3 separate regions of the Homo sapiens genome follow, and all the other regions are linked to region 1. The links come from fine-mapping of genetic effects on gene expression. A gene starts in region 1. Each other region holds a variant in brackets. All regions are shown on one strand. Distances are from middle to middle.

The links. PIP is the estimated chance that this variant, and not a neighbour inherited with it, causes the effect. A credible set is the group of variants that fine-mapping cannot tell apart.
Region 2: its variant is the best candidate, but not a certain one, in a credible set for the expression of SYNJ2BP in whole blood (TOPMed, PIP 0.61).
Region 3: its variant is the best candidate, but not a certain one, in a credible set for the expression of SYNJ2BP in breast (GTEx, PIP 0.84).

The regions. Positions count from the first base shown.
Region 1 is chr14:70,415,599-70,418,098 of GRCh38, reverse strand. SYNJ2BP (synaptojanin 2 binding protein) reads left to right here and starts at 1,009. Exons shown (of 4, transcript NM_018373.3): 1 at 1,009-1,199. The coding sequence starts at 1,136. It overlaps SYNJ2BP-COX16 (SYNJ2BP-COX16 readthrough), which reads left to right and starts at 1,009. Exons shown (of 5, transcript NM_001202549.2): 1 at 1,009-1,199. The coding sequence starts at 1,136. LOC124903339 (a long non-coding RNA gene) reads right to left here and starts at 1,014. Exons shown (of 2, transcript XR_007064237.1): 1 at 911-1,014. RefSeq lists enhancers at 934-1,043, 23-1,222, 1,154-1,233.
Region 2 is chr14:70,726,205-70,729,056 of GRCh38, reverse strand. MAP3K9 (mitogen-activated protein kinase kinase kinase 9) reads left to right here. Exons shown (of 12, transcript NM_001284230.2): 12 at 1-2,852. Among named protein-coding and RNA genes, the nearest start is that of LINC01269, 29 kb to the right of the region's middle. The variant G/A (reference allele first, on the strand shown) is at 1,621.
Region 3 is chr14:70,490,012-70,492,863 of GRCh38, reverse strand. No RefSeq gene overlaps it. Among named protein-coding and RNA genes, the nearest start is that of ADAM21, 39 kb to the right of the region's middle. The variant A/C (reference allele first, on the strand shown) is at 1,472.

The DNA of each region.
Region 1 (2,500 bases):
TAGTCCTCTAAGATCCCCACCAATCCCTGTGGTCTAACTCCAGGTTGCTTCACAAGGTTGTCACCTTCCTGGCTCTTTAGGCTTTTGTGTTTTTGACCCCTGAAGTTTCATTCAAGTTCAGTTTGGAATGTCTCATTCCAAAAGTCAGGAAGACTGGCCTAAAGTTATACCTAAGCCATGCGTTAACCTTATTGTAAGAGTTAAAACATTAAAAAGATTGAATTTTCCCAGTTGCCAAAAGAATGAGACATTCCCCCACCCCCCTTTCTTAAAACATTTTCTTGAGCAAATTGTAATTATAATCCGTGTGTAGTGTGTGTGTGTGTGTGTATCTTTTTAAAAGCTAAATAAGCCTCTTGTCAGATAAAACCCAGGAATTGTTTTCGTCAGGTCCCGGGAGCCAACTCCTTGAAATTTAAGTATCAAGGTAGACAGTGCCCCTATGTTCCAGGCTCGCGGGAGTTACCCGAAGCGCCTTGCTCCAAGCCGTAAGTACCTGTTTGTCACAGAGATAACGTTTTATTTTTCCTTTGGATAAAGGCAATTAACCAACACAGGCGGCCACTCCAACGGTGAACTACCAAAAATTGAATACCAAACCATGTTAACTCGTCTTACATGAGAAGATGCGTGTGCTTTGGCTACATAAAATGTGAGATTTTTGTCTCTCTTTGCAATCTCATTAGTGGATTGCCTGTAACACCCATTCCGGTCTGGTTCGATGCTTACAGAATAATACACCTTTTTTTTCTTTTCTACATTTGTGGAGATTTTCTAGGATGGCAGGAGATTTTTTTAAAATTTTTTTTCTCGACAATATCAATTTATTTAGGTCCCTTACTTTTACTAGCCACCCCCTTCCCACTTGCTTCCAATGGCAAATTAGAATGGTAACTTGCCCCTTGCTCACCTCATGCTTGGCTTTGGGAACCGGTGAGAAACTGCAATCCATTGGCGGTAGGAACCACGATTCCCAGCATTCCCAGTGCTCCGAGTCCTTCGGGCTTCCTTTTCCGGGTCTCGAGGCTGCTGAAACCGAAACCGCTGTGCTGTGGGCGCAGCGCCGAGATTGATTCACCTTCACCTGTGCTGCACTCCAGCTGACCCAAGTAGGAAGCCAGACGAGCTGTAAAACATGAACGGAAGAGTGGATTATTTGGTCACTGAGGAAGAGATCAATCTTACCAGAGGGCCCTCAGGTATGTGCGGAAAGGGTCATATCTGACAGTAGGGGATTAGAGGGTGTAATTGCAGACACCTCTGCTGCTGAGCCGGATTCACCTGGCCTCGGGGCGGGCAGGCCACAACCTAGAGGTTTCGTGCAACGCTTCGGGGTGCTTAGAGAAAATATATTGAAATCCATCATTAGCCAGATACGGGTCTGAGGAATCCACCTCAAAATCCAGTTGGATGAACACAAATATATATAGTCAAGAAGGGGTTCTTTGTGCAAATCGTGCTAGAAAAGCCTTTTTAAAAGCCTGCTTTTTTAGCCTGCTTATCGTGGATACCACATCCTTCTTTCCGTTGCCTGTTCTATCCCTCCCCCTATGAGGGACCGTTTAGTAAAATGGGAGCATAAACGGTGTGGACTCTGAATGCATAGCCGTTTTCCTGCAGCTAGGATCCCTCCCTCGCTCCTTTGATTTCTGGGAACTTCATTTACAATGTCAACTAGAATGTTAAAGCAGGAAGAGCCCTTAGAAATCTTTTATTACACAGGTTCCCAAACTTGGTTCCGCCACAAAATTACCCAGGGCTTTAAAAAAAAAAAAAAAAAAGAAAATAAAAAGTTAAATCTTATCTCCCATCTGCAGGGATTTGGATTTAATACAGATTTATTTTATTTATTTATTTATTTTTTATGAACACCTCATGTGATTTTGAGCAGCCAAACTGCTATCCTCTTCCCCCACTGTGGCTCTTCATTAAACCGGGCTCTTGACATTACTACATTCTGCCTGCTTTCGACTTTGTTTACTTTCCTTTACAACTATTTAGTTGATCAATTAAGAGCTCTTTAGCTTTGGAATTACAGTATCTGGGTCTAAATCTTGTATCTAACCTCTTACTGATTCTTGATACTTATTGGCTAACTTAACTGATGTAAGCCTTAGTTTATCATCTCTAAAATGGGGATGGTTATAAATATACTTCATAGTGTTGTGAGAATGAAATGAGTTAATCCATGTAAAATGTTTACAACATTGCTTGACCTATGGTAAACAGTATGTGTTTCCTACTATTGTTACTGTTAATGGATAAATAGCTAAACTGACACAGTAAATCCTACTAATACTGTATTCCAAGAGTCTCTAATAAATCATCAAGTACTCTGAGCTCCATCTCTGAAATGTTCCTGAAATTCTTTCACTCCTGTTTCCCTTGCCACTACCTAGGACAGTCCATCACCTTTTCTCATCTGCAGTTCTGCAGTAGCTTAATCATGGATAGATTATTCTTTATAAAATATAACTTTCAGAATTATCCATACTTTGTG
Region 2 (2,852 bases), 310 kb before region 1:
CCAACCCTGACCTTCCTGGAAGTTGTTTCCTTAACTTGAATGTTGAGCTTCCTCTAAAGCTTTCTCGTGTATGTCTTCTCCATGCCACTACTCTGAGGCCTCCTGTGTTATGTGTGAACAGTTGTCTTTATGTGGGAATGACGACTTGATTGGGAGTAGAGTCTCAAGGTCATTCCCCTCTTCCCTCAAGACTCTCTGAATGCTGCTCCACTGTCTTTTGTCTTGGAGGTCACTCAGCAGGTTCCTTGCATTTGCTGCCTGGATGTGCAGCTGGCAACAGTGATGAATTGGTCACTGCTCTTTCTCTATAACTGGGATAGATGTCCTGCCTTGGGGTCACTAAAGGGGTGACCTTGTTCCTTGCTTTATGAGCCCATTAGCACTTTGGTTCAAGGGGCCCACCAAGTCTTGGACGGGAAGGCGCTACTGGTTTTATTGCCCAAGGTTTTGTTATTGCTTCTCTTCTGTGTCCTTCTCTTTGTTCAGTGAAGCCAATATGTAAGATACTGTTTTTGTCCCCATTCCCCTACTCCTGAGCTAGGAGGAAAAAATGTGAATCTTACCAGCAGTTCCAGCCAACCAAGTGATTCTTCTTCATTCTTGATGGGGAGAAGTACATACAAAGTTTGTTCTGACAGGGCGCGGTGGCTCACGCCTGTAATCCCAGCGCTTTGGGAGGCAGAGGCAGGTGGATCACCTGAGGTCGGGAGTTCGAGACCAGCCTGACCAACATGGAGATATCCTGTCTCTACTAAAAATACAAAAAAATTAGCCAGGCATGGTGGCACGTGCCTGTAATCCCAGCTACTCGCAAGGCTGAGGCAGGAGAATCGCTTGAACCTGGGAGGCGGAGGTTGCAGTGAGCCAAGATTGCGCCATTGCACTCCAGCCTGGGCAACAAGAGAGAAACTCTGTCTCAAAAAAAAAAAAAAAAAAAAAAAAAGTCTGTTCTGTGGCCTCCTTCCCCCGGGCCCTCCATAACCTCAGGCTAAACCATGAGCACATCTGTATATCCTTGGCTCCACTAAATGGCCCTCTTGTGGCCCTCCAAACCATGCTGCCTATACACAGTGCTCTGTGGTATGAAGCAGAGATTTTTCCTTTGCTCATTTTTAACTTTTGCCATTGTGGTAGGTTGCAGCCATCTTTCTAGATGTAGTGTAACTGATGTAGTGTAACTGAATGATGGTCACCTGCCATTGAGTGAGAGGTTGAGTGCCATCCTTACTTGTCCACTGTGGGGAAAGATAAAGCAAGCCTGGGTCTTTGCTAAGGAAATAATTGTACCTGAAAGAAGCAAAAGCAGGGCTATCCAAAGGTGCTACTGTGAGCATCCATGAAGAAGGAACAGTTACCATCTCTCAGCTCCTACACACCTGGTCTCTGATGGGCCCCTGACTGCTGCACTCTCTCAGTGGGGCAAGGTTGGAGATGGGCTAAGGATCTGTATAGTAGTAGCAGGTCTCAGTGGCTTTCTATTCGCTCAGGTTCCCTTGTTCTGTGGTCCTGGTCGGGAGCAGGCCCTGGAGCTGTGGATGAAGCCACTTGAGTGGCAGTAGCCGGCCCCCCTTTCCTCTGCCTTCCCTTTGCACAAAGACACGTTCCTTCTGCTCTTGGCAG[G/A]TGCTAACTTCATGGAAGATGGTAATAGGAACAGATACTGCTCTCTGCCCCTGCTTCTTGGATTCTTCAGCTCCTACCGCTGATTCGGATTATCCCCTTTTGACCCTCTTGGGGATCCAGACTGCTGCCAGGAGGCTGAGTAGATACCTCAGTTATCTGTATGTTATTTCTGAGAGGCTTTGGCGGATCCTCTTCACTTGGCATCCTGTGGCATCCCTAGGGTCTGGTGGTAGCAGTAATAGCAACAATGATATCTTACATCTGGACAACTCAGAATAGTGCTAACTTTTCCTCCTGACCTTTGCAAAATGACATCATTTTCCTTGTACATTTGATACCCTTGCTAGTAGAGAAGGGGAAATGCTTAAAGATGAAAATTCAAGTGAAGAGAAATGAAAAAGTGGCTTGGACTAATTGCTGAGTGAGGCCACTGGGCTCAGAACTGAACAGGTTGGCTGCATTCCCCATTCTGCTTTTGCTGTGTGGCCATAGGCTTGTCTCTTTAGCCCCTCTCAGATTTCCTTCCTTTAAAAGCAATCATCACATGCTTTCCTCTCAAGGGAGTTGGGTGTATGTATCAGAGAAGGTCAGTGAAACACCATAGCTCCTTGCCAGCTCCTAGAGGAAGCTTCTTTCATCTATACAGGATGAATCGCTGAAGTTGAGAGTGTGGCTCTCATCACCTTTGCCTTGAGGGAACTTGCCTTTTCTTTCGTCCTTTGGCTTCTGGAAGAGGAGTGATTTGGAGGTGGTTGAGCATGACTAATGGGGGCCCTGGTCGGGCCCATGCCCTTCTGCCGCATTTATATAGCATCTGGTGTTGACAAGCATTCTTTCCTAATTCCCCCACTTAACTTGTCTGATGCTGTCTGCCAATGTCATCCTCACCACTTGTGTCTTACAGAGAAGGAAATGGGAGAGGGAGGTTGTGTCTTACAGAGAAGGAAATGAGAGAGGGAGGTTGGTAGCAACATCAGAGTGACAGTTGGCTGTCTCTCATTTCTTGGGGTCATCAGTCTGATTTGTTTAGAGCCTGGGATCATCCCAGTTCCTGGAAGAATCTTTGGAAAAGGGTCCCCTTGTTCTTGGGACATGTGTCATGGTCACTAAGCCCCCTTTCCCTCAGGCTACTGTTGCTCAGGGACACAATGAGATACCCCAAGGACATCTAGACCTGACTTTTCATGAACTCTCTTGCCTCTGTGGTCCCCACATTGGAGACCTCCCTCCCT
Region 3 (2,852 bases), 75 kb before region 1:
TTTGGTTTTTTTGAGACAGAGTCTCAAAAAAAAGGAGTGCAGTGGTGTGGTCTCAGCTCACTGCAACCTCCACCTCCTAGGCTCAAGCAATTATTGTGCCTCAGCCACCCAAGTAGTTGGGGTTACAGGCACGTGCCACCATGCCTGGCTAATTTTTTGTACTTTTAGTAGAGACAGGATTTCACCATGTTGGCCAGGTTGGTCTCGAACTCCTGGCCTCAAGTGATCCACCCACCTTGGCCTCTCAAAGTACTGGGATTACAAGCATGAACCACTATGCCTGGCCCATGGTTCAATCTTGTTCTCATAATAGTGAGTTCTCACAAGACTTGATGGTTTTATAAGTAGAAGCTTCCCCTGCTCTTGCATCTCTCACCTGCCCCCACGTAAGACGTGCTTGCTTCCCCTTCCCCTTCTGCCATGATTATAAGTTTCCTAAGGCCTCCTATCCATGCTTCCTATTAATCCTGCAGAACTGTGACTGAATTAAACCTCTTTCCTTTATAAATTACCCAGTCTCAGGTAGTATCTTTAAAGCAATGGGATAATGGACTAATACAGTAAATGGGTACTGGTAGAATAGGGTACTGCTATAAAGATAACCTGAAAGTGTGGAAGCAACTTTGGAACTGGGTAATGGGCAGAGGTTGGAACAGTTTGGAGAGCTCAGAAGAAGACAGGAAGATGTGGGAAAGTTTGGAGCTTCCTAGAGACTTACTGAATGGTTTTGACCAAAATGTTGATAGTGATATGTACAATGAAGTCCAGGTTGAGCTGGTCTCAGATGGAGATGAGGAACTTATGTTTAAAAGGAAATCAGAACATAAAAGTTTGGAAAATTTGCAGTCTGACCATGTGGTATAAAAGTAAAACCCATTTTCTGGAAAGAAAGTCAAGATGGCTGCAGAAATTTACATACGTAATGAGGAGCCAAATGTTAATAGCCAAGACAATGGGGAAAATGTCTCCAAGGCATGTCAGAAACCTACTGGGAAGCTTCTCCCGTCACAGGCCTGGAGGCCTAAGAGGGAAAAATGGTTTTGTGCGCCAGGCCAGGGACCTGCTGCTTTGTGCAGCCTCGGGACTTGGTGCTCCATGTCCCAGCCACTCCAGCCTTAGCAGTGGCTAAAAGGGGCCAAGGTATGGCTTAGCATTGCTTCAGAGGGTGCAAGCCCCAAGCCTTGGCAGTTTCCACATGGTGTTGGGCCTGTGGATGCACAGAAGGCAAGAGCTGAGGTTTGGGAACCTCCAACTATATTTTAGAGGATGTATGGAAATGCCTGGAAGTCCAGGCAGAAGTCTGCTGCAGGAGTGGAGCCCTCATGGAGAACCTCTGCTAGGTCAGTGCCGAAGAGAAATGTGGGGTTGCAGCCCCCATGCAGAGTCCCCACTGGGGCACTTCCTAGTGCAGCTGTGACAAGAGGGCCACCATCCTCCAGACCCCAGACCCACTGACAGCTTGCACTGTGTA[A/C]CTGAAAAAGCCACAGACACTCTGGGTTTTGAACTTGCATGGGTCTTGTAGCTCCTTTATTTTGGCCAATTTCTCTCATTTGGAATGGGAACATTTAACCAATGCCTGTACCCCAACTGTATCTTGGAAGTAACTAACTTGTTTTTGGTTTTACTAGATGAGACTATGGATTTGGACTTTTGAGTTAATGCTGGAATGAATTAAGACTTCGGAGTATTGTTGGGAAGGCATGATTGGTTTTGGAATGTTAGGACATGAGATTTGGGAAAGGACAGGGCAGAATGATATGGTTTGGCTCTGTGTCCCCACCCAAATCTTATCTTGAATTGTAATCCAAATTGTAATCCCCATGTGTTGAGGAAAGGACCTGGTGGGAGGTGACTGGATGATGGGGGTGGTTCCCCCATGCTTTTCTCATGATAGTGAGTTCTTACGAGATCTGATGGTTTTATAAGTAGACGTTTCCATGGCTCTCATGCTTCTTGCCTGCCACCATGTAAGATGTGCTTGCTTTCCCTTAGTCCTCCACCATGATTGTAAGTTTCCTGAGGCCTCCTAACCATGCTTCCTGCTAAGCCTGCAGAACTGTGAGTCAATTAAACCTCTTTCCTTTATAAATTACCTAGTCTCAGGTTGTATCTTTATAGTAGTGTGAGAATGGACTAATACAGATATGGACAGTGAAGTCTGGACTGAGGAGGTCTCAAATGGAGATGAGGAACTTATTGGGAACTGGGATAAAGGTCACTCTTGTTCTGCTTTAGCAAAGAGACTGGTGGCATTGTGCCCCTGCTCTAGAGACCTGTGGAACTTTGAACTTGACAGAGATGATTTACGTTATCTGGCAAAAGAAATTTTTTTTTATAAGACAGGGTCTCACTCTGTCACCCAGGCTAGCATGCAGTTGCGTGATCTCAGTCACTGCAACCTCTGCTTCCCAGGCTCAAGCAATTCTCCAGCCTCAGCCTCCCAAATAGCTGGGCCTACAGGTTCACACCATCACACAGAGCTAATTTTTATATTCTTTATAGAGAAAGGATTTTGCTGTGTTGCCCAGGCTGGTCTCAAACTCCTGAGCTCAAAGCGACCTACCCACCTTAGCCTCCCAAAATGCTGAGATTATAGGCATGAGCCACCGTGTCTGGCCAGGCGGAAGAAATTTCTAAGTAACAAAGCATTCAAGCTGTGGCCTGGCTGCTTCTAAAAGCTTATGCTCATTTGCATAAGCACTGAAATGAATTGAAACTTGAACTTATATTTAAAAGGAAGCAGAGCATGAAAGTGTGGAAAATTGCAGCCTGGCTATGTGGTAGAAAAGAAAAACTCATTTTCAGCGGAGGAATTTAAGCCCAAGCTGGCTGCAGAAATTTGCATAAGTAAA